7 linked regions of the Homo sapiens genome follow. The protein of the gene in region 1 purifies or fractionates together with the protein of each later gene. This does not show direct contact. Each region holds a gene or a part of one and is shown on either strand. Other genes may lie near its edges. The genes, in order: HMGN5, RCC1, NAA40, KDM5B, TOP2B, RAI1 and MACROH2A2.

Region 1 (3,500 bases):
TGAGGGTGGGTAAGCATCTCCCAGTCCACTGACTCATATGTTAATCTCCTTTGGCAACACCCTCACAGACACACCCAGGAACAATACTTTGCATCCTCAATCCATTCAAGTTGACACTCAGTATTAACCATCACAGAGGGTTAGAGTGACTTCTGAGGTTTTAAGGGGTTTAAAATTCCACCCTATCCCTATCCTGTCTCTTTCCAATGATAACCAAATTTATTCGCTCCTCCTCTGGAGTCAGTGATACCCAACGGAAGAGTGGGGCAGTAACCCTTACTCAAACTATCAGAAGGTTTTGGAAATAGGGGATGCTCCTGAGTAGAGCCTTATTTTTCCTTGAGACCATTTACTGTTACTGCTCAGGGACAACGCATGAAATGACATTCTATCCCTCTGCTGGAATTCTGTAAAGAGCTAATAAAAATTACATCTCTTAAGTCCGGCGCTTCAAAGCCTTCCACATTGTTTTTCTATAGCTGAGTGGCGCCCTCTAGTGGCTCTAATCATGAACGTACCATCTGGGATGAGATCAGACCTCTGAACACAATACTTCAGGACTCCCTCTGGTAAGGAGTCAATGTTGCTTCCTGCTGATGCACATCACTACATAGCAGGTGACTGAGACAGGATAAGAATTCTTAAGCATAACACTCTGTTACTTAACCTACCCTATCTCCTCTGCAGATACTCCCCTTCTGCTGGCACTTGAAGAGAACAACAGTATATCCTCCAATGTGCGGTAATTTTGTATGTGATTTACATATTTATGTGTTAATGTGTTGTGTGTTAATAGAGAAAAAATTTTATATTACTGGTCTCCCATCTGCCAGAGGAGGCAGGAAGGTGGGCACTAGGGCATCATTGAGTGATGTTGTTGGTTCTTCTAAAAATCAAGGCTCTTTGAAGACCACCAAGACTCCAGACATTCTTACTTTGGAAACGGGAAGATTTGGTTACGCTTTGTGTCCCCATCCAAATTTCATCTTGAATTGTAATCCTCATAATCCCCACATGTCTAGAGAGAGACCAGGTGGGAGGTGACTGGATCATGGGGGTGGTTTCCCCCATGCTGGTCTAGTGATAGTGAATGAGTTCTCATGAGATCTCATGGGTTTTTTTTGTTTGTTTGTTTTTTGTTTTTGTTTTGTTTTGTTTTTTGAGGAGTTTAGCTCTGTCGCCAGGCTGGAGTTCAGTGGCGTGATCTCGGCTCACTGCAACCTCTCCCTGCAATTCTCCCACCTCAGCCTCCTGGGTAGCTGGGATTACAGGCGGCCACCACCACGCCTGGCTAATTTTTGTATTTTTAGTAGAGATGGGGTTTCACCTTGTTGGCCAAGATGGTCTCAATCTCCTGACCTCATGATCTGCCCATCTCAGCCTCCCAAAGTGCTGGGATTACAGGCGTGAGCCACTGTGCCCAGCTGATCTCATGGTTTTATAAGGAGCTCTTCCCCCGTTGCTCCTCCCTCTTCTGTCTCCTGCTGCCATGTGAGAAGGTCCAAGCTTGCTTCCCCTTTGCCTTCCACCATGATTGTAAGTCTCCTGAGGCCTCCCCAGCTATGCAGAACTGTGAGTCAATTAAACCTCTTTCCTTTATAAATTACCCAGTCTTTGGTATTTCTTTATAGCAGTGTGAAACAGACTAATACACACCACTTCACAGTGTATCAAACATAAAAATGCAAATGTACTTATAATCCCACTTAAATATAAATATTAAGCATATTCTAAAATTTGTATAACTTTGTTTTAAAATTTAAAAAATTTTCAGCCACAAGCAATTCATTAAAATATGCTCGACAGTGATTTCTCTGCAGAAACAGGAATTCTGCTTATGTGAGATAAAAATGTAAACTCCAAATTGTTTTCAAATGAAATGAAATTTTTACAAATAGTAAACTTAATATTCAATGAAGTTGACATGATAATGTTTTTCAGACAGTTCATTAAACATTTCTACACCATAATTTTGTAGTGTTTTGTAGGTAAATAATATTTTAACTTTCTCAAAAGTTTAAAAGTAGGTAAAATTTCTGCTTCTGGAAAAGGTGGGGATAGGTGATCTGGAACTCTCTTGATAAAGGGAATTTAAAATATTGGAAGGTATTTTATAATACATGAAAAATATCAAAGACCTCAAGAGGAAAGTGAGGAATTATCAGGGCGAGAAAAGAGGGTGAATTACAACTCCAAAGAGCTCAGTGATGATAAAGAGTGCTTCTGCTGAGGGGGTATTTGCTGATCAAGAAAATTCAGCTACTTTTGGTGTGGCAAATGAAAATAACTCACCTGGAGACTCTTAGTTCTGAGTGAGGGGTGAGAGCATAGCAGTGTCCACTTGAGAAGGGAAAGGGATGTCATACTACGGTAGTATAAGACAAATTATGTTCATTTTGCAAAATGAAAAAAAAAAAACAGAAGAAAGAGTCTCCTGTTGCATAGGCCGAAAAGTGCAATAGCAGTAGCCCTGATGTTGGCAATGAGGAGGGTGACTAGATCATGCTGACTTACTTTTGCCTGATTATTTGTATAAAGATTTTGAGTTGTGTCTAGCAAAGGCAAGAGTTGGATAAGTGGAGAGGGCAGAAAAGGTTATGAGAATGTGGGGAGAAGGTGAAGAAAGAAACAGGAAGAGCAAAGGCATGAGAGTGATCATAAGCATGATGATTGCAGCAGGTAGTCAACAATGATTACGTACATAGGGAAGTTAGTTTGGGGGAGCACTAAGTAAGATTGTATGAATAGTGTGGGCCTAGATTATGGTGAAAACTGTTTAGCAACATAATTTAGGTTTAGTTCGATAGTCAATGGAGAGCTAATTTAAGTATTTCTGCCTACGTTGTCTTCAGTAATATAAGAAAGTGGTGTTTTAGGATGAAAAAATTGCTAACTTTTTTTTTAGTACTTTCACTCTTCCAGGCAGTGAGTTAACAGTAATAGTTAAGAAGGTGGCCTCTGGAGGCTAGCAGCATCCTGATACCAAAGCCTGGCAGAGACACAACAACAAAAAAGGAGAATTTTAGGCCAATATCTCTGATGAACATCGATGTGAAAATCCTCAGTAAAATACTGGCAAACAGAATCTAGCAGTACATCAAAAAGCTTATCCACCACGATCAAGTTGGCTTCATCCCTGGGATGCAAGGCTAGTTCAATATATGCAAATCAATTAATGTAATCCATCACATAAACAGAACTAATGACAAAAACCACACGATTATCTCAATAGATGCAGAAAAGGCCTTCGAAAAAATTTAACAGCCCTTCATGCTAAAAACTCTCAATAAACTAGGTATTGATGGAACATATCTCAAAATAATGAGAGCTATTTATGACAAACCCACAGCCAATATAATACTGAATGGACAAAAACTGGAAGCATTCCCTTTGAAAACTGGCACAAGACAAGGATGCCCTCTCTCACCAATCCTATTTAACATAGTGTTGGAAGTTCTGGCTAGGGCAATCAGGCAAGAGAAAGAAAGAATGGGTATTCA
Region 2 (3,500 bases), on another chromosome or scaffold:
GAAGCAGGAACAAAGTGCCATCACAAACACTGCTCTCTGTACCTCGGCTCCCCCGAGAGTGGACATCACAGCCTATTGGGGAATTGGGTAAGAACCATGACCCCCAGGTCCCAACTAGACAGAGTGTAGGCAGCCCCACTCACCATCCTTGGTCACAGCATACCCCACAGAGGCCCCACAAGCCACCGAGGAGACAGCAGGCAGCCTGGAGATGAGGGTGGGTATGCTCTTCTCCTCAGCACCCTCTCCAAGGCCCAGCCGCCCATACTCAGCCCGGCCCAGGCTGTATGCTTTTCCTATGGGAGGAGGGAGAGAGATGAGCAATAGCAGAGGGCGTGCTACAGGCAAAATGGGTGGCAGGCTAGGTGAGTCCACCTGTCCATGGGAGTGTGTCCCTGCTCCCAGAGCGATCAGAAGGAGATCTGCAGTGTCTCTTCCCAGTTTTGGAGGAGGCCTAGGAGAATCTACATGGGCCCCCATTGAACTCACACTTGGAAGAACACCAGGACTCTAGGAGGATGAGAGTGACTCTCATGGACCCATGTATGGTACAACCCATGGAACAGACCCAGGCTCCAAGGACCATGGTCTCAGGAATCTGGCTAGGCCTAGGCCAGGGAACACTCCACCCCCAAACTAGAGAAGGACGTAAAGGCCCTACCTTCCGAATCCATGCAGACTGTATGGTGCTGGCCACCAGAGAAGCCCACCCAGGACTTGGTGGAATTCTTGAAGGATGTTAGGTTCTGGGGTATGAAGCAAGATTCTGTGCCCGGAGTTCCTGGGGGAAAGGCCGGAGCCATCAGGGGTGAAGGTGTTCTGAGAGCTGCCCTTCTCAATCTCCTCCCACAGTGAGGCCACCTCCCATCAGGATATGGACATTCTCACTTTACAGATGACAAAACTGGCTTGGAGGGGTTAGACGACCCCGCAAAGGATGCACAATGAATGAGTGGCAGAGCCAGGACAGGAACGCAGGCCACTGGGTCATGCCTGAAGCTGGGCTCGGGGCTCACCAAGCTGATGGTAGTTGGAGAGGCCGAAGCCGTACACGTGGCCCTCATGGGAGATGGCAAAGGTGAAATAGGCACCACAAAAGGCATCCTGGAATCTCACGTGGCCCCGGCTTCCCCTGGATTTCAGCATCACACACTTGGGGACCAGGAGTCGTTCTGCAGGCAAAGGGAAAGCCACGGTCAGTGACAGACAGACACACATGGCTTCTCTCTGCCCCGAGTTTAATTCTCCTCCATTATAAAAGCCCTTGAGAGGCTAAGTAGGGACTCTTATCCCTATTTTATAGAAAAGGAAACTGAGATCAAGAGAATACAAGTGCCTTGCTCAGATTCCCACAGTCATTACGGGTATCATTTACGTGGAACTTACCATCTGCCTGATATTCTTCTCATTAACTCATTTAACTTCACAGCAACCTAATGAAGTAGGTTTACAGGTAGGTAGACTTAGTGATGAAGAAACTATGTTCAGAGTCCCATAGACAGTAGGTGGCAAAACTACCAGAGCAGTCTGTCTCCAAAGTCCTAACCAACACCACAAGCCCATCTGATGCAAGCCTGACCACAGCAAATCCTTCCTGCCTTTGGCCTTCACTGTGGGGGTGGCCTGCCAATTTGCCCTGCTGGAGGTACCAAGGCCACTTACCGAGGCCTTGCCGGCCACCACGGTTGGCAAATAACTCAGGCACACGGCCTAGCTGGCCCTGTTCCCCGCAGCCCAAGGTGTAGAGGTCACCATCAGCTGTCAGCATCACCAAGTGGTCGTTTCCTAAGGATGAAAAGGTAAGGGATGCAGGCCACAACTGTAAGGCCCAAGGCTAGGCCAGCCCCAGAACAAGGTCCTCCAACTCCTGCCCTGAGCAAGTGCCCCCAGACCCACCTGAGGCCACCTTTACCACAGGCACATCCAGCTGCACCTGCACAGGCACCATGCTCTTCTTCATGGGCTCCAACAGTCCAATCACACCGTTATTGTCCTAGAAGGGAGGGACAGGGCACTTATCAGCCAGTCCTGCCTGCCCCGTGCCAGTGAAATCCAGAAGGGCAGTGGCACCAGATGGGGATGGAGAAGTGGGCAGGAGCCAGGCCACATACTCAAATACTTATGAATGAAATCATTTATGGTCTGCGACTTGCATTAAAATAATCAAGGAGTCAGAGAGCGGATGCAAATAGAGATAAACAAGTCTGGCCACAAGCTGATAATCATTGAAACTGTGTGGCAAGTAAATGGGCACTCAATATACTATTCTGGGCCAGGCATGGTAATTCATGCCAGTAATCCTAGCACTTTGGTAGGCCCAGGTGGGCAGATCGCTTGAGCTCAGGACCAGCTTGGGCAACACGGTGAAACCCCGTCCCTACAAAAAATACAAAAATTAGCTGGGCGTGGTGGCACAAGCCTCTAGTACCAGCTACTTGCGAGGCTGAGGTGGAAGAAATCACCTGAGCCCAGGAAGTTGAGGCTGTAATGAGCTAAGACGATGCCATTGCACTCTGGCCTGGGTGACAGAGCAGGATCTCGTCTCTAATTAAAAAAGAAAAGAGGCCGGGCGCGGTGGCTCATGCCTGTAATCCCAGCACTTTGGGAGGCCAAGGCGGGCGATCACGAGGTCAGGAGATCGAGACCATTCCGGCTAACACGGTGAAATGCCGTCTCTACCAAAAAATACAAAAAATTAGCCGGGCGTTGTAGCGGGCGCCTGTAGTCCCAGCTACTCGGGAGACAGAGGCAGGAGAATGGCGTGAATCAGGGAGGCAGAGCTTGCAGTGAGCCGAGATCGCGCCACTGCACTCCAGCCTGGGCGACAAAGCGAGACTCCGTCTCAAAACAAAGAAAAAAGAAAAGAGGCCAGACGTGGCGGCTCAAGCCTGCAATCCAGCACTCTGGGAGGCCCAGACGGGCGGATCACCTGAGATCAGAAATTCACAACCAGCCTGGCCAACATGGTGAAACCCCGTCTCTACTAAAAATACAAAAATTAACCAGGTGTGGTGGCGCATGCCTGTAATCCCAGCTACTCGGGAGGCTGAGGAAGGAGAATTGCTTGAGCCCGAGAGGCAGAGGTTGCACTGAGCCGAGATTGTGTCATTGCACTCCAACCTGGGTGATAGAGCAAGACTCTGTCTCAAAAAAAAAAAAAAAAAAAAAAAAAAAAAAAAAAAAAAAAAAAAAAAAAAGAAAAGAAAAGAAAAGAAAAAAATATAATTCTGATATTCTGATTACTTCCTTTTTTTTTTTTTTTTTTTTTTTTTGAGACAGAGTTTCGCTCTTGTTGCCCAGGCTGGAGTGCAATGGCGCGATCTCGGCTCACTGCAACCTCCGCCTCCCAGGTTCAAACAATTCTCCTGCCTCAGCCTCCCGAGTAGCTGGGATTACAGGCATGCACCACCATGTCCAGCTAATTTTGTAATTTTAATAGAGACAGGGTTTCTCCATGTTGGTCAGGCCGGTCTCGAACTCCCGACCCCTCAGGTGATCAG
Region 3 (3,500 bases), on another chromosome or scaffold:
AGCTGTTTTCCCACGCGATGAGGTACCAGGCTCGGTCATCTGTCATTTCCTCCCGTTTCTCTCGGTCCTTCCAGCCCCACTCGCTCTGCTCATACCTGGGGAATTTGGGAGCAGTCAGACGGGAAAGCTGCGAGAGGAACTAGGCTCCCCTGGTTGGGACAAGCTTACATGGTTTGCATATTCGTTTTGGTCAGGTCGAAGGCCCAATCCACGGTGGCTGGCTCCAGTCCAGACACTCGCTTACATTCAATGGAGACATTCAACCTGAGAAGAGGACAGGACGTGTACGGAATTGGTTACAGCACTCCTGCCAGGGCACTGCTGTTCCTCCCTCAGAATCACAGGGAGGAAGGCCCAGTCTCAGTTACTGCACAGAGAAAAGCCAACCCTGTATCTGCCCCAGCATGACTAGAGAAGGTGCAGGAACAAAGTCTTTCAGGCTGAGATTAACAACTGTGGCCACACGGCCCACCCCCCAACCACAAGGCCCGTTTCCTGCCTCCCCAAGCTGTCCTAATCCGCCTCGGCACTTTGTAAACTTCTTGTCCCTCTCTGCTCTCTCTTTATTCTTTTTCTACCTTTTCTGTCTCTTCTGTACTTTGTTATAAACACTCATGTCTTCTGTTATTTAGTTCCTGCCCTTAGGCATTTTTCCTGTTGCTGTAATTTCTGAGCTGACTCCTCACTAGGCTCCCATGGGACCCCATTCCTCTTATCTACCAATTGCGCCTTCAAAACCACTGGGTGACCCTAGGTCCTTCGAGAAGACTACGGCTCAACACGCCCCACCCCGCCCCAGGAGTCCTGCCTGCCTCATCTGAGCAGGGGGGATACTCTCAGCTGATCAAACAGATTGAGGCAGGAATGGTGGCTCACACCTGTAATCCCAGCACTTTGGGATGCCAAGGCATATGGATCACCTGAGGTCAGGAGTTCGAGACTAGCCTGACCAACATGGTGAAATCCCGTCTGTACTAAAACTACAAAAAAATTAGCTGGGCATGGTGGTGGGTGCCTGTAATCCCAGCTACTCGGGAGGCTGAGGCAGGAGAATCGCTTGAACCTGGGAGGCGGAGGTTGCAGTGAGCCAAGATCGTGCCATTGCACTACAGCCTGGGCAGTGAGAGCGAAACTCTGTCTCCAAACAAACAAAAAAAAACCGGGTGAAGCAGGCTTCAGCCCAACACTGTTTTTCTAAACCCACAAATGCCTAAGTGTTAAGGTATCTGTTTCTAAATGAAATTTAAGTAAAAAACAGTTAAACTCCTTGACTGATCTGTGAAATCACATTCCCTAGAGAGCACTACATTCTGAAAGGACTAGAGTCAGCAAACTCTAAGCCTTTAAAGAGCTCCCGTATCAATACCTTTCAGTGACCTTTGACACAACCCCCAGAGGATGTACGCACTGGAATCCCATCACCTCTACTGACTGGCACACCACACTCAGCCTTATGAATTCAGAACTCCCTGCCCCTGAAGCATCTTCCTTTCTTTATCACCCACTTAGCCATCACAGCTGCCCAAACACAGCACTGCACCTATCTTAACTATAAAATGTCCAAAGCCCACCTGCAGGTACGAATTCTCCATTAAAGTACATGAAAGTAAGATCACAACCACAGGAACCACACAAAATTCAAGGCACCAGAGGAGCCCAGACTTGGCTGGCAATGCCTGTTTTGGAGCTATTCCACATTTCTGGAAGTCAATGGGAATACGGAATATGAAAACACTATGAGGCCGGGCACAGTGGCTCACGCCTGTAATCCCAGCACTTTGGGAGGCCGAGGCGGGCGGATCATGAGGTCAGGAGTTCGAGACTAGCCTGGCCAACATAGTGAAACCCCATCTTTAATAAAAATACAAAAAATTAGCCGGGCGTGGTGGGGGGTGCCTGTAATCCCAGCTACTCCGGCGGCTGAGGCAGGAGAATTGCTTGTACCAGGGAGGCAGAGGTTGCAGTGAGCCAAGATCATGCCATTGTACTCCAGCCTGGGCGAGACTCTGTCTCAAAAACAAAAACGAAAACACTATGAGATATCACAATATGGGATATCTAAAGTATGTCAAAAGACTTTCCAGGCCGGGCGCAGTGGCTCACGCCTACAATCTCAGCACTTCGGGAGGTTGAGGCAGGTGGATCACCTGAGGTCAGGAGTTCGGGACCAGCCTGGCCAACATGGCGAAACTCCGTCTTTACTAAAAATACAAAAATTAGCAGGGCGTGATGTCATGTACTTGCAGTCCCAGCTACTCAGGAGGTAGAGGCAGGAGAATCACTTGAACCCAGGAGGCAGAGGCTGCAGTGAGCCGAGATCGTGCCACTGCACTCCAGCCTAGGCACAGAGCGAGACTCTGTCTCAAAAAAAAAAAAAAACAAAAAAAACCTCATACCAGCTGCTACTTACTGAGCTGCATATATTCTCTTTCTTCCTTAAAAAAAACCTTCCAAGTTTGGCTGGGCACGGTGGCTCACACCTGTAATCCCAGCACTTTGGGAGGCCGAGGCGGGCGGATCACAAGGTCAGGAGATCGAGACCATCCTGGCTAACACGGTGAAACCCCATCTCTACTAAAAATACAAAAAATTAGCCGGGCGTGGTGGCGGGTGCCTGTAGTCCCAGCTACTCGGGAGGCTGAGGCAGGATAATGGCGTGAATCCGGGAGGCTGAGCTTGCAGTGAGCCGAGATGGCGCCACTGCACTCCAGCCTGGGTGACAGAGCAAGACACCATCTCAAAAAAAAAAAAAAAAAAACAGCTTGCAAGTTTGGCATCATCATCCTATTTGACAGGTAAGAAAATGAGGCTTGAGGAATATGAGTGACTTCTCCAAGTAGAGTTATTAAGAAGCCCAGCTACAATTCAATCCCCCAGAGCCCCAGTTTATCCCCAAGCCAAGATGTTACATTCTGGAAGCACAACTCATCAACAGCATCTCAGGTAAGGCAGATTATACTTCCTATTTTAGAAACCAAAACGAGAAAAAAACGTGAGGGGGCCTTCACTCCAGAGCCTATAGTTAACTGGATCAGTAATAGTAACAGCAAACAGGGTGAGGGTTGAAAATTTACCTATTGGGTACGATGATTACTATTTGGGTGATGGGTACACTAGATGCCCAACCCCACCACTACACAGCTGCACATGTACCCCGCGAATCTAAAATAAAATTTTAAAATAAAATAACAGCAAACACTTATCTAGCTTTTATTATGCTGCAGGAACTAACACTTTACATCTTATCCTCCTGACAAGTCCATGAGAAAGGTACTATTATTAGAACCATTTTTGGTTTTTGGGTTTTTGTTTTGTTTTGAGACAGGATCTTGCTGTCACCCAGGCTAGAGTGCAATGCTGCTACCATGGCTCACTGCAGCCTGCATCTCCCAGGCTCAAGCAATTCTCCCACATCAGCCTTCTCAGTAGCTGGGAATACAGGCATGTGCCACCATGCCCAGCTAATTAAAAAAATTTTTTTTTTGTAGAGACAGGGTCTT
Region 4 (2,213 bases), on another chromosome or scaffold:
CAGTGTGTTGGTGCTTTAGCGATTGATTGATGTACAGAACACAAATGTCTAGTTTCTAGTGTCACTGATGAACTAGTGATGTAGAAAAGAGACTTCTCTGTAAGTAATTGCCACAGCTGTATTTTGGCTTTCTCCCTGTCCCTTCCTTTCTCCCCTATTTTTTGGTAGCTTGTATCAAATGTTACAGTTTATATTGTGGAATAAATCCTTCGTCCTAACATAACACTAAATGCTGATTATTTAGAGCCATTAGAGCACAGCTTCTTCTGCCCCTCTACTGTTGCACAGCCAGAAGGGGCTGCTTGCTTTTGCCTCTGCCCAACCAGGTTGCAGTAGCAGTGGATGTTAGCCTGCAAACAACATTAGGGGATTCTTCTTTTGTGTCCTGCTCTGTTTGGTGGGCCATATGCCTACAGCCCTCACTAACAAAGAACCCCTCTGTCTTCAAGGACTAGAACCTATCTTTAAAGCCGTGCTCTTTTAAAATAAGCTTTCTCAGAATGTTGGCAAATCACTTCAATCCTCAAATCAGTCTTCCTTGTGGAATGCTGCCTTTATTATATTTGAATTGACAGGGGAACTTGGTTTAGGGTTAAGACGTTGGAAGGAAATCTAAGGAAAATTAATCCTCACAGAGGTCCGGGTTTAGTATATGTCTTGAGAGGAGACTTGTGAATTCCCAGACTCTGCCTCCTGGTTTCCTTTCTCATTTCTTTCTAACTGTAGCTATCATTACTGGCTGTGGATAGCCCATAGCTATTTTCCTTGCTTTTCTTTTTTAAAGGGGTCTGTTCTGCAGTGGAGAAGACATTCTGGTGACCAGACTTTTGCTTACCTTTTCCTATTCTGTTGCCAATTTTTGTTTTCCCCACATTCTATAGCCATAAACCTGAAGATGAGTAAAACTGGTGGGTCTTTAATAAAACAACAACAAAAACAGCAGTTTGTGATATAGCAGAGGTTTAAATGTACCCTCCCCTTTTATGCACTTCAAATAATTAAATCTCTTTAAGAATGACTTCTAGTTGTCTGCAGTTTTCTGCAGTTGTTGTGATGTTTCTCTTCGTCTGATGGTGGTTCTGGGGCCAATAGAGAAGAATAGTCTCCAGAGTACAATTTGGAATCATCGTGGTTTGGCCTTGTTAGTATTCAAATTCTTAGAATCCCCTCCATCACCCCCGACTTTGAGATAGGATGCCAACTGTCCCAGTCCTCACCTTCCATTGAGAAATTAAGCTTAAAAGGAGACCCTGCTGCTAATATAAAGCCACTGCCTTTAGAGAGCTTTTGCCATCTTAGTAAGCACAACCCCTACCCCCATCCCCACTAGTTTTTCTTCTTCACCTGTGGGTGGTGGTACACAGTCCCTGACAATAGCATCTTTGAGGAAGTCAGATCTTTGTATCTCTGAGTGAGTTAGAAAAGGTAGGCATGTGTGTATTTGAACCACTCCCTCCCTGGATGAGAACCACTGATCATTTTATGTGTGATGATGCTGAATTTAAAGAGAATGTCAGTTGCCCAAAGCTACACTGTACTACTAGTAAATAACAAAGCCTGGGTTTTATCTTCCAGTTTTCCTACAGTATTCCTCCTACCTTGTACACCATCACACTACTAATGAACACAGATAACGTTTACTTTCCAGTTTATGCCTTTGTTGTATCCCTAAAATGACTACAGACTGATGTGATCTAAAAACCATGTTTCATTGTGTGTTAGCTGTGAAGCTGGCCTGTACCAGAGAAACCTCTGAACTTGTAGGGGAAAATGATAAAATGCACATGGAAACTGACACTTCAGTTTCCATCTCAGTAGTCCTGCAGCTTTGTGAGGTGGGAGAGGGGAAGGGACTGTGTTAAGTTAGAGCCTGAACCAGAAGGAGGGTCAGTGGGTAAAGAAAGAAAGGGTAGATGAGGTGTGCCTTCCACCTCACCTAAATGAATACTGTTTGTTTTTTGTTTTTCCTTCCAGATTAGACTTTGGGGGATTTCTTATATAGAATAAAGGGCTTGATTATATGTAGCCTCTATCCTGGAGAAAGGTTATGTAATTTGGACTATGTAAAGGAAGTTGACTTCTTTACAGCTTCGTTTCAGTATCCTAGGAGGTGGGATTCATTTTTCTATCTTAAGTTAACCTAAAGGAGAGATGCCACTTGTGGTGATGGAGGTTGTTAAAAACCTGAATTTCCCTGCTTCATTCTCCAGTGA
Region 5 (3,957 bases), on another chromosome or scaffold:
CCAATAATAACAAACATCATTAAGCCCAGCACTGTGCTACACACGTTATCTCATTTCATTCTCAATGCAACCTTATTTGACAGATAAAAAAACAGGCTTAGAAAGGTTAGGTTCCTTGGGAAAAGTCCAACTAAATGTGTTGGAGAGACAGTATCTGAACCTACATCAGCCTGACGTCAAAGCCCATAACTACCTCACTATATTGCCTCCCATAAAATCAAACCAGTCTATATGATCAATGATGTATATTATGGACATAAAGATGCTCATATAACCTTAGAGTAAGCATCAACTCTTAAAGAAGACTTACAGGAGTGATTATCTTTTTAATAAACTTCTAATTCCATAAGATATACTCTATAAATAAAACACTAAGTGATCTTCACTTCTCTTTATTTTACTGCATTTCCCATATTTTCCATAATCTGCTTTATAATGAAAATTCCTTTAATCAATAAGTCAATTTCAGTTTCAAATGGATTTTTCTATCTTGAATGAGATGCTCCAAGTTTTGCTAAATTAGCAATGAGTTTCCTATGGAGCTTGAAAGAAATAAATTGTCATTTAATTATCTACAAAATTATATAACAGTTAATTAAAGTACTGCTATCAAATGTTAAAGCCAACAATCCACTACGGAGCAAAATGTTTACCATTATAGAACCAGAGGTCTTCAGAGGAAACACCGATCAGGCCTCAACACTTCCAAATAGTGAATGAGAACTTACAATACCATTTGGCTGTCTAAGTCAATTTTCCGATGTCTGATTTTAGTGACAGGGGTAAAAGCCATTAATTCTGAAAGTCATTATTTTGCATGTATGTGTCCATCTCCTCCTTCTTCCTCTCACATACCCTCTACTGCAAGTCCACATGGACCACTAACTTAGTATCTGACATTTTCTCTCCTGGCCCTAGTCCCTTCATACTTTCATTCTACATAATCGGAGTAATATACAACATTCAAAGAATTTCAACAATAAGAGCATGGCAAGTTATTTTGCAATGTACCCTGGCACGCAAACATAAGTGATTAAAATGTTTTGCTGCTGTCAGTAGCACCCTTTTTATAAGAAGCAGTTGTCAATATAGCACAAATTGCTATTCAACTCACCCAAACCTCACCCAAACAAAGAGAAAACGAACTAAGTAACAAAAATGCCTATATGAAAGCTCCCTTGAGGTATTTAAAACAGGGACGGGGGAACAGACCGTCAAAAGTCCAGAAAAATGTAACACTTTTTACTTTTCTCCGAAATACCTAGGTTTTCTGTATAGGAAATGACCCTGGTCTGAACTCTACGCTGAGCAAGTGAAATGCCGGCGAATTATCGATCTGTCGTGGGAATCCAGTCTCCCTTCCTCCTTCCGCTGCAGTTACTTCTACTTCCCAGCAAGAACTGAGCGTCGAAATCCTTTAACTTCAGGACTAAGCACTTCAGTCACCTCTCCAGGACATCCATTCAGCCCTCACCCCGTTACACCTGCGATGCTGACGTAGACAAGCACTTCTTTTAATAATCTCACCCTGACAGAGGGACGACCTACAGTATTAACTGCTGTGAAAGTCATCCCCAATGCGCTCTCAATTGAGCGCATTGAATGAGGCTTTCCAAATTGAAGTGCAAGTTGCTGTAGAAATCCCAATGCATTCTTCTTTGAGATTAAAGCCCCAGAAAGAGCTGCATTTAGAATACACACACACACACACCCCTTTTCCCAGGGTTTTCTTGAACTACATTTGGAGAAAATGCTGCCCCACACAGACACACTTGCATTATCGCCATCCCCACCATTTCAGGTTCGGCTGCCCCGGAAGAGTCTGGTTAAAAAGAAAAGAGAGGAAGCGGGGGCTGTATGTTACGTTCGCGGTTTTGTCCCCCCAAAGTTTCAAGTACACATTACGCTCTGGCAGTCAGGACTTCCAGAGACGTACAGAGAAAGAAAGAAAGAAAAGGCGCGGGGAGCGGGCTGGAGGATTCTGCAAGCACAGGCCCCTATGGAGCGCCCGTTCGGGGGACGGGATTTCCCTCCCTTTCCCCTCCCCCGCCCGTTCGGAATTCCGCCCCCGCCGCGGGCCCGGAACAATGCAGCCGCCCGTCCCGGGGACCAGCCACTTACCACCCAGGTCAGTGCCCCGTTGCCGCCGCCCACGCCGGCTCCCGCGCCGCAGCCACCCGACTTGGCCATGGCGAGTGCCTCCAGCTCACAGGCCCTGAGGCCGCAGCCGCCGCTCCCGCCTCCCTGCGGGCCGCTGGGCCCCGCCGCTCCGCACCCACCGCTCCACTCGCCGCACTCCTAGCCGCGCCGACCCCCGCGCCCCATCGCGAAGATCCGGAGCGGACGTCCAGCCGAGCCCGCTGAGGAGGCCGCGCCGCCGGCTGCCCTCAAACTCGAGGCGCGGCGTCCGCGTCGCCCGGGCCTAGCGCGGCGGCTGAGGAGAAAGCAGGGAGCGACCGGCGGCGGCCGAGCGGCGGCGTTGCCTTCTCGCCCGCCCGCGGGCGCCGCTGCAGGCCGGGCTGAAGCCCGGGCGTGCGAGCCGCGAGGGCGGCCGGGGAGCCCGAGGCGCTCGGACGTGGCGAGGACGCAGAGGTGCCTTGTCCTTCTCACACTCCGCGAAGGCCAGCCACTCGAGTCGCCAGAGTAGTCGTCCCGGTCGCCGCCGCTGCTTCAAAGGCAGCCTTAGCCTCGCTGCAGCCCCGATTTCCTCACACACACACACCGAGAGGGACAATAAACAGAGCCGCCGCCGCCGCCGCCACGGTCACCTCCCTCTTGTCCGGCATAACACCGCACACACACATTTGCACACCGGGGAGAGAGGGAGGGCGCGGCGGCCGCCCCCGCTGTCAGTCAGCGCCATGCTGTCCAATCCGGGCCTTGTCGCCACAGCCTCTCGGCCAATCCCAAAATTCCAAGCCCCCTGGAGGGGCGGGACCCGAGGGGGGAAACGTCATTGCGGGTAGCAACCGAAAGGAAGACTTGGGGTTTTTGTTTGTGTGTGTGTCTGTGGGTTTTCCATTTGAAGGGAGAGCAGGGGCTGCTTCAAGGGTCAATTGAGGGCGGCAAAGGGAAAGGGTCGAATTGGCCTCGGGTCGATTGTAATCCTCCAAGCGTGCTGTTTACTCTGAGACCTAACCGGGAATCCGAAGCGTTTGCCTGGGGCCTCTAAGGATGAGGATGGGGGCGGGGTGGGGATGGGGGTGGCAGGAAGAAGCCGGGGGCCGTCCCAAAGGGAAATTATTTTAAAAGAGCGGTTGTAAACCGCAGGCAAGACGTTGTAGACCACTGGTGCAAGGAGGCCCCGTGACCCGGCCTCCCCAAGGGCCTAAGTGGACGCTGCTGTCGAAAAAAATCATCTCAGACCTTCTCCATCTCCTTCTTCCGTCTCCTCCCCTCACCCCAAAAGAGCATATGGTCAGTTTCAAGAAAACTACATATGAAAAGCTTAAATGATAAGGGACACACAGAGAATGTTCTAGGGAAAGAATGCAGGGTGGGTTGAGTGTTCTATTTCTACTCTTTGTTGACCTTTCTTCTCTGAACAATGCAGAGATGTCACTGTCACTTTTCTCATCTGTCCAGAACTGTGCCCCCTGCCTCTAAGAGGGCATGCTTAATTTTTAAAACTGTTTTCAGTGGAATTTTCAAATGCACAGTAAGGAATAATTTCATTCACATTAAAGCTTTCTAAGAATGAAAATTACCAATACAGCAACATCACAGTCTTTGGCAGATGGAAGATGGCTTTACTTCTTCCTGTTTTTCAGTGTAATTCCACTCAAGTATTTATTGGGCGCACACTCTGCCACGCTGTGCCAGGCTCTGCGATGGGTTCAAAGTAAAAACAAGGCCCCTGATTTCAAACCATTTATAACCTGGCTTGTGAGACAGACTAAAAGGGAGCCAACGATCACCAAAATGAGTACTTGAAGGCATGAAGTGCCACCAAAGAGT
Region 6 (3,500 bases), on another chromosome or scaffold:
CTGCCGTGCCACCAAGAAGCTCCTCGACAACAGCCACTTGCCCGCCACATTCAAGGTCTCCAGCAGCCCCCAGAAGGAGGGCAGGGTGAGCCAGCGGGCAAGGGTCCCCAAACCTGGTGCAGGCAGCAAGCTCTCTGACCGGCCCCTCCATGCGCTCAAAAGGAAGTCGGCCTTCATGGCGCCGGTCCCCACCAAGAAGCGGAACCTGGTCTTGCGGAGCCGCAGCAGCAGCAGCAGCAACGCCAGTGGCAATGGGGGAGATGGGAAGGAGGAGAGGCCTGAGGGTTCCCCCACCCTCTTCAAGAGGATGTCTTCTCCCAAGAAAGCCAAGCCCACCAAGGGCAATGGCGAGCCTGCCACAAAGCTCCCACCCCCGGAGACCCCCGATGCCTGCCTCAAGCTCGCCTCTCGGGCAGCCTTCCAGGGGGCCATGAAGACCAAGGTGCTGCCACCCCGGAAGGGCCGGGGCCTGAAGCTGGAAGCCATCGTGCAGAAGATCACCTCGCCCAGCCTCAAGAAGTTCGCATGTAAAGCGCCAGGGGCCTCTCCTGGTAATCCTCTGAGCCCATCCCTTTCCGACAAAGACCGTGGGCTCAAGGGTGCTGGGGGCAGCCCAGTGGGGGTGGAAGAAGGCCTGGTAAATGTGGGCACCGGGCAGAAGCTCCCAACTTCTGGGGCTGATCCGTTATGCAGAAATCCAACCAACAGATCCTTAAAAGGCAAACTCATGAACAGTAAGAAACTGTCTTCTACTGACTGTTTCAAAACCGAGGCCTTCACATCCCCGGAGGCCCTGCAGCCTGGGGGGACTGCCCTGGCGCCTAAGAAGAGGAGCCGGAAAGGCCGGGCAGGGGCCCATGGACTCTCCAAAGGCCCGCTGGAGAAGCGGCCCTATCTTGGCCCGGCTCTGCTCCTGACTCCCCGAGACAGGGCCAGTGGCACACAAGGGGCCAGTGAGGACAACTCTGGTGGAGGAGGCAAGAAGCCAAAGATGGAGGAGCTGGGCCTGGCCTCCCAGCCCCCGGAGGGCAGGCCCTGCCAGCCCCAGACAAGGGCACAGAAACAGCCAGGCCACACCAACTACAGCAGCTATTCCAAGCGGAAGCGCCTCACTCGGGGCCGGGCCAAGAACACCACCTCTTCACCCTGTAAGGGGCGTGCCAAGCGACGACGACAGCAGCAGGTGCTGCCCCTGGATCCCGCAGAGCCTGAAATCCGCCTCAAGTACATTTCCTCTTGCAAGCGGCTGAGGTCAGACAGCCGGACCCCCGCCTTCTCACCCTTCGTGCGGGTGGAGAAGCGAGACGCGTTCACCACCATATGCACTGTTGTCAACTCCCCTGGAGATGCGCCCAAGCCCCACAGGAAGCCTTCCTCCTCTGCCTCCTCTTCCTCATCCTCGTCCTCGTTCTCCTTGGATGCAGCCGGGGCCTCCCTGGCCACACTCCCTGGAGGCTCCATCCTGCAGCCGCGGCCCTCCTTGCCCCTCTCCTCCACGATGCACTTGGGGCCTGTGGTTTCCAAGGCCCTGAGTACCTCTTGCCTTGTTTGCTGCCTCTGCCAAAACCCGGCCAACTTCAAGGACCTTGGGGACCTCTGTGGGCCCTACTACCCTGAACACTGCCTCCCCAAAAAGAAGCCAAAACTCAAGGAGAAGGTGCGGCCAGAAGGCACCTGTGAGGAGGCCTCGCTGCCGCTTGAGAGAACACTCAAAGGTCCCGAGTGTGCAGCTGCCGCCACTGCCGGGAAGCCCCCCAGGCCTGACGGCCCAGCTGACCCGGCCAAGCAGGGCCCACTGCGCACCAGTGCCCGGGGCCTGTCCCGGAGGCTGCAGAGCTGCTACTGCTGTGATGGCCGGGAGGATGGGGGCGAGGAGGCAGCCCCAGCCGACAAGGGTCGCAAACATGAGTGCAGCAAGGAGGCTCCGGCAGAGCCCGGCGGGGAGGCCCAGGAGCACTGGGTGCATGAGGCCTGTGCCGTGTGGACCGGCGGCGTCTACCTGGTGGCCGGGAAGCTCTTTGGGCTGCAGGAGGCCATGAAGGTGGCCGTGGACATGGTAAGAGGCCAGCCCAGCCAGGGTGGGGAGTGTGGGGTTCCAAAGGACAGGCAGGCAGGCAGTCGGGGAGCCCCTTGTTTCTAGTGCTACAGTGTGGGCCAAATGTGTCTGCAGTCTCGGGACAATCTGCAGAGTCCTGAGCCTCTCTGGGGTGTGTGGGGGAAGTGGAGGCACCCATCTGGCTAAGGCAGGTCACACTCACCTACCCTGTCCCAGGAGACTTCCCGCCGGGGCCCGTATGCCCAGCCACCGCCACTCTCCCACTCACCTGGCATCTTCAGGCTCCAGCCCCACCCAGAATCCACTGGGCCCCTCCCCATGCTGTCACCGGAGATGCCAAGGCCCAGAGAACACGAGGACTCCCAAGATTGAACATCAGGGCTGCCCCGGGCGGTGCAAGAGCAAGTTGCCCACCCTCTGTTCCTGTCTCCATTGCCTCTGGGATGAAGCTAAGGGCTCAGGAAGACCCTCTCTGGCGACACAGGCTTGGTGCATGGACCCAGTCACAGGGTTCCTCCCTCTGCAGGACAGTCCATGGGGTCACACAGTCACAACAGGCAGGGCGGGGCAGATCCAGACCCTCTCACCATTGGCTCTGAGACCAGCTTTGGAAGCCATAGTCACTGAGCACCAACATGAGAGAGGGAACTCTGGGGCTGTGCCGCCATGCACCTTTGGGGCTGTGACCTGCCCTCTCTGTGCCTCCGTCCCCTCGCCCCTAACGTGGGTATGAGGGTGCCCATGGAGGAGGGGTCGGGAGGGTTAAAAGGTGGGCACCTCTGAGCCCACCGAGCACAGCAGCCCTGTGATAGTCAGTGCAGAGGGGCCTGGTGGCTCTGGTGACAGCAGGGTGACGTTCTTCGTGGTGTCACCACTTCCCCAGTACCATAGAGTACCTCTGTGCCCTTCTGAGGGAGGGGTCAGTGGGGGCGGTGGGGTGCACCTCTCCCCCGGGGCCATGCTTCTGCCCCCACATTCAACCCCGACTCCACTGCCTCATCCAGACTTCCGTGGAGTGACGCTCCCGGCTCTCAGCGCTGTGTGGTGGCTCTCAGTGGGGACGCCTGCAGCCTTCTCTGGCCCCTGCCCTGAGTCCCATCCCCTCCACTCCTTCCTTCAACCCACTATGTGCGGCTGAGGTCACAGGGGAGCCAGAGGGGCTTGGCAGGGGTCTCCAGAGGCCCTGGACAAACACTGCCTGCATCTGAGTGATTCAGTGACCCAGCACAGTGGCCCCAGCCGGTGGCTTCGCCCCTCCCCCTGCCCAGCCTCCTCCCCCGTCGCTGCACTGCCCACCTGCTCCTCGCAGTACACCCCTGCAGCCCCTCTGAGCAGCCCCTGCTCCTGACAGTTGCCGTGGCATTGCCTGGCCAAACCAAGGTCCCGGTGGGGGCCCACTGTGTTTGCCACCCACGCCTCCTAGTGTGTGTCTTGGGCACCTGCT
Region 7 (3,500 bases), on another chromosome or scaffold:
TGTGCCACTGTGCCTGGCTTAAACAAATGTTTAAGAAACTTGACATTTATGATGTAACTGGAATTGGAACACTGGTAATTTGTTGATATTGCTATCTTTTTAAGGGTACAATAATGGTATTGTGGCTGTGTTGTTAGTAAACAGCCCTTATCTGTTACAAGTCATTGTGAAATATTCATAGATAAAATGATGTCTGGAAGTATGTGGAGGGGGTAAGAGCTGAAACAAAGGTGGCCATGGGTGGTGATTATTGCATCTGATTGCATAGGGTTTCATTATACTTTTCTGTTATTTTTTGTGTATGCTTGACTTTTCCCATAATAACATAATGTTTTGAAAAGAGTAAGACAGGGCCTTGGCTGCTGGGATGATTAGTTTGGGTGATGGTGGTGGAAAATGGAATCGTAATGGGAGGGACTCCTCCTAACACAGCAGCAATAAAACCACTGTCAATTACTAACTGCCTAGGAGCCCAGCACTGTGCTAAGCCCCATCACAGCACCCCTATGGGACAGGTACTATTGCTATCCTCCCTTACAGAGGAGGAAACGGAGGTTCAGGGAGGTTTAGAAACCTGCCAAAGGTCAGCTAGGAAGCAATTCAGAAAAGCTGGGACAGTCCAGGCAGGCCGACCTGGAACCTGCCCTCTTAACCACCTGACTGCCTTTAGCCCATTTCTCCTCCCAAGACCCTGAAGCGGTTGGCCTTAGAATCCACTGCTGGGATCTGAGCGTGAATTTTTGCTCCCAGACCAGTGCTCTTTCTACTCTGCCACCATGCCAATTAAAAAAAAGAAGCATATTATTTTTCTTACATAAAAATTTCATTACTATAGAAATGTGTAAAGTATGAACACTGCAATGTGTCAGTGAGAGGCAGGACACCTATTAAAAGAGCTCCAGATGAAGGCTACTAGAGGGCGTCCTTCCATGGAGAGTGGAAGGAGACCTGTTTCTCTGTAATGCTGACTTTTCCCAGGGCTGTCCTATCTCCTTTTCAGCACAGCAAGTGGCCTCTGATGCCAGGAGGAAGCCCTGAGTGAGTCCAGCTGCCTGGGGCCCCTGGTGCTACCAGCCAGGGCTGAACTACTAGCATCTACCTCAAATTGCCTCCCTCACAGGCAAGCCCTGTACCCTAGAGACAAAGCCCCTTCTTTGCTCACTTTACCCTTTCCGTGGAGAGTTTAAGGCAGTTCTGCTTGGTAAAAATGGATGGGATGGGGACTGTTAGCATGCTGTTATTTCCAGCGCCCATAACAGCTTACCCTCCCAAGCTCCTCCACCCTGGCTATTAACAGCTCCCTCTGCCACTCGTGGGACAGGTGGCAAACCACAGGCAAAAATAACTCAATGCTCATAGCTTAATGGACAATCTAATTTTTTTCTAGATGTCCATTTCCCTTTTATCAATAGCACTCTCAATATTTAAGCTTACGATATATGTAAACATGTACAACAATATTTATAGTAGCACTATTCACTATAGCTCAAACTGGAAACTACCCCAAATGTCATCAGTGGTAGAATAGATCAATAAACTGTCATATATTTATAGAGTGTAATACTACAGAGCAAGGAAAATGAATGAATACAAGCATACTCAACGACATGGATAGATTTCACAATACTAAGTTGAGCAAAAGGAGTCGGACCCAGAAGAGGACAAGATTTCATTTTTACAAAATTCAAGACAGATGAAACCCATCTCTGCTTTGATAAGAAAGGACAGTGGTTACCCTTGGAGGAAATACTGACTGGGAGTGGGGCTGAGGGAGACTTCTGGGGTGCTGGTAAGGGTCTGCTTCAGGATCTTGGTGCTGGTTGCAAAGTGGGGTTCACTTTGAGAAAAATTCATCAAGCTCTATGCTAATGATTTGCTTTTACACAATACCCCAATAAAAATTTCAAAAATATATGCAGAATTAAAACAAAGTTAGCTTCTCTCTAGTGAAACTGTTCAACTACACATAAAGACAGAGCTTGACATGGGACCCCAGCGGAGGGACAGCCAGTTGACAATGATCAGCTTCACAAGAACTTGCCTGAACAGTGGCCTATTCTATGGCACTTCTACTGAAGTCTCAGGACCTTACCTATATCTTCTTTGAGGTCAATTTCGGCTGTGGTTGGGTGGACAATGCCCTCCACTCTCATGGAGCCAATATGGCTGATGTCACTCTGGGTTAAGGACAGCTGCATTAGGAAGAAAAGGTGGTGAATGTGGAAAAGATAAAATTCTGTTGAAAAATCTCATATTTTACTTGCATTCATTAATTCTCTTTAATTATTCATACCCAATGTCAACATAGGGGCTGCATAGAGAGTGACAACCTCCAGTTTCCCAGGTGTTTGGCTTGCAATAAGCTCTTTGAGCTCAGTGGATTTGCTTTCCACTCTGGGGCTGGCAGCATGCAACAAATCCATTTCTTCTTCCCTGGAACAGGAACAGGGCCTCCCCTCTCTTTTTTTTTTTTTTTTTGAGACGGAGTCTCACTCTGTCTCCCAGGCTGGAGTGCAGTGGCGTGATCTCGGCTCACTGCAAGCTCTGCCTCCCAGGTTCACGCCATTCTCCTGCCTCAGCCTCCTGAGTAGCTGGGACTACAGGCGCCCGCCACCATGCCCAGCTAATTTTTTGTATTTTTAGTAGAGACGGAGTTTCATCGTGTTAGCCAGGATGATCTTGATCTCCCGACCTCTTGATCCACCCGCCTCTGCCTCCCAAAGTGCTGGGATTACAGGCGTGAGCCACCGCGCCTGGCCCCCTCTCCTTTCTTTCTTTCCCTTACAGCTCATGCCTTTGGTTCCCAACCCTGGTGGCCTTAGTTTTCAGTGATGCATCTTCTGAGAAGCTCCTGCAAGGAAGCCCAGGGCTTGCTCTCTCTTCTCCCCTCAGCATCCTGCATTCTCCCTAGAAGAACACAAAATCTGTGGGGCAGGGCTCTGAAGCCAATAACCTTGCTGGAGAGAAGTAATGGGCTCTGGGATTCTGACCTGGGGGTGTCTGGCTCCCTTGCCCTTTGGAGACCACAGTCTTGGGGCTACCATTGGGAATTGCTATCCTATGTGTTCACAGTAGAGTGGAATGGAGGGCATTCTCTATTGTTGGCCCATGTGAGCAAGACCTTTATGTTGCCTTAGCTAAGTGAGAGAAAGCTAATCGTCATGTAACAGTGAACAGGCCAGAGAGGGGACATAAATTCCACCTCTTTGTTTCCCTGCTTTCATCAGTGACGAATTAGCAACCAGCCACACCGATGCTCTTCTTAGAACATACTCTTCCCAATTCTTTGAATGGAGGCTTACTGTGTTGTCAAGATGGAAACATTCAGCTACCAGAGATATGATTAACTGACTCTTTCCTTGGGTGTCTTATTTCAGCCCCAGTTGACTTGGTAGATAAATTGTCTGCTCAGTAAACTTTACACTTGTAGGAATGAATTATTTGCATGTCTGGTTGGGCTGCTGTTGTGTTGCTGAAGACTGTTCAAATGCATAGCCCTG

Evidence for each region.
Region 2: the proteins of HMGN5 (region 1) and RCC1 purify together in Homo sapiens (affinity purification with mass spectrometry; one large-scale study listed by BioGRID and IntAct). This does not show direct contact.
Region 3: the proteins of HMGN5 (region 1) and NAA40 purify together in Homo sapiens (affinity purification with mass spectrometry; one large-scale study listed by BioGRID and IntAct). This does not show direct contact.
Region 4: the proteins of HMGN5 (region 1) and KDM5B purify together in Homo sapiens (affinity purification with mass spectrometry; one large-scale study listed by BioGRID and IntAct). This does not show direct contact.
Region 5: the proteins of HMGN5 (region 1) and TOP2B purify together in Homo sapiens (affinity purification with mass spectrometry; one large-scale study listed by BioGRID and IntAct). This does not show direct contact.
Region 6: the proteins of HMGN5 (region 1) and RAI1 purify together in Homo sapiens (affinity purification with mass spectrometry; one large-scale study listed by BioGRID and IntAct). This does not show direct contact.
Region 7: the proteins of HMGN5 (region 1) and MACROH2A2 purify together in Homo sapiens (affinity purification with mass spectrometry; one large-scale study listed by BioGRID and IntAct). This does not show direct contact.

What each region holds. Positions count from the first base shown.
Region 1 is NC_000023.11:81,195,414-81,198,913, forward strand, and holds part of HMGN5 (high mobility group nucleosome-binding domain-containing protein 5), read right to left. Parts: intron 1-3,500. UniProt on the Homo sapiens protein: Preferentially binds to euchromatin and modulates cellular transcription by counteracting linker histone-mediated chromatin compaction.
Region 2 is NC_000001.11:28,533,543-28,537,042, reverse strand, and holds part of RCC1 (regulator of chromosome condensation), read right to left. Parts: intron 1,994-3,500; coding exon 1,897-1,993; intron 1,786-1,896; coding exon 1,663-1,785; intron 1,173-1,662; coding exon 1,017-1,172; intron 782-1,016; coding exon 662-781; intron 297-661; coding exon 144-296; intron 1-143. UniProt on the Homo sapiens protein: Guanine-nucleotide releasing factor that promotes the exchange of Ran-bound GDP by GTP, and thereby plays an important role in RAN-mediated functions in nuclear import and mitosis.
Region 3 is NC_000011.10:63,949,002-63,952,501, reverse strand, and holds part of NAA40 (N-alpha-acetyltransferase 40), read right to left. Parts: intron 265-3,500; coding exon 169-264; intron 96-168; coding exon 1-95. UniProt on the Homo sapiens protein: N-alpha-acetyltransferase that specifically mediates the acetylation of the N-terminal residues of histones H4 and H2A.
Region 4 is NC_000001.11:202,726,209-202,728,421, reverse strand, and holds part of KDM5B (lysine-specific demethylase 5B), read left to right. Parts: 3' UTR 1-2,213. UniProt on the Homo sapiens protein: Histone demethylase that demethylates 'Lys-4' of histone H3, thereby playing a central role in histone code. Does not demethylate histone H3 'Lys-9' or H3 'Lys-27'. Demethylates trimethylated, dimethylated and monomethylated H3 'Lys-4'.
Region 5 is NC_000003.12:25,662,108-25,666,064, forward strand, and holds the start of TOP2B (DNA topoisomerase 2-beta), read right to left. Parts: upstream 2,801-3,957; 5' UTR 2,191-2,800; coding exon 2,122-2,190; intron 1-2,121. UniProt on the Homo sapiens protein: Key decatenating enzyme that alters DNA topology by binding to two double-stranded DNA molecules, generating a double-stranded break in one of the strands, passing the intact strand through the broken strand, and religating the broken strand.
Region 6 is NC_000017.11:17,796,458-17,799,957, forward strand, and holds part of RAI1 (retinoic acid-induced protein 1), read left to right. Parts: coding exon 1-2,056; intron 2,057-3,500. UniProt on the Homo sapiens protein: Transcriptional regulator of the circadian clock components: CLOCK, BMAL1, BMAL2, PER1/3, CRY1/2, NR1D1/2 and RORA/C. Positively regulates the transcriptional activity of CLOCK a core component of the circadian clock.
Region 7 is NC_000010.11:70,094,346-70,097,845, reverse strand, and holds part of MACROH2A2 (core histone macro-H2A.2), read right to left. Parts: intron 2,193-3,500; coding exon 2,093-2,192; intron 1-2,092. UniProt on the Homo sapiens protein: Variant histone H2A which replaces conventional H2A in a subset of nucleosomes where it represses transcription. Nucleosomes wrap and compact DNA into chromatin, limiting DNA accessibility to the cellular machineries which require DNA as a template.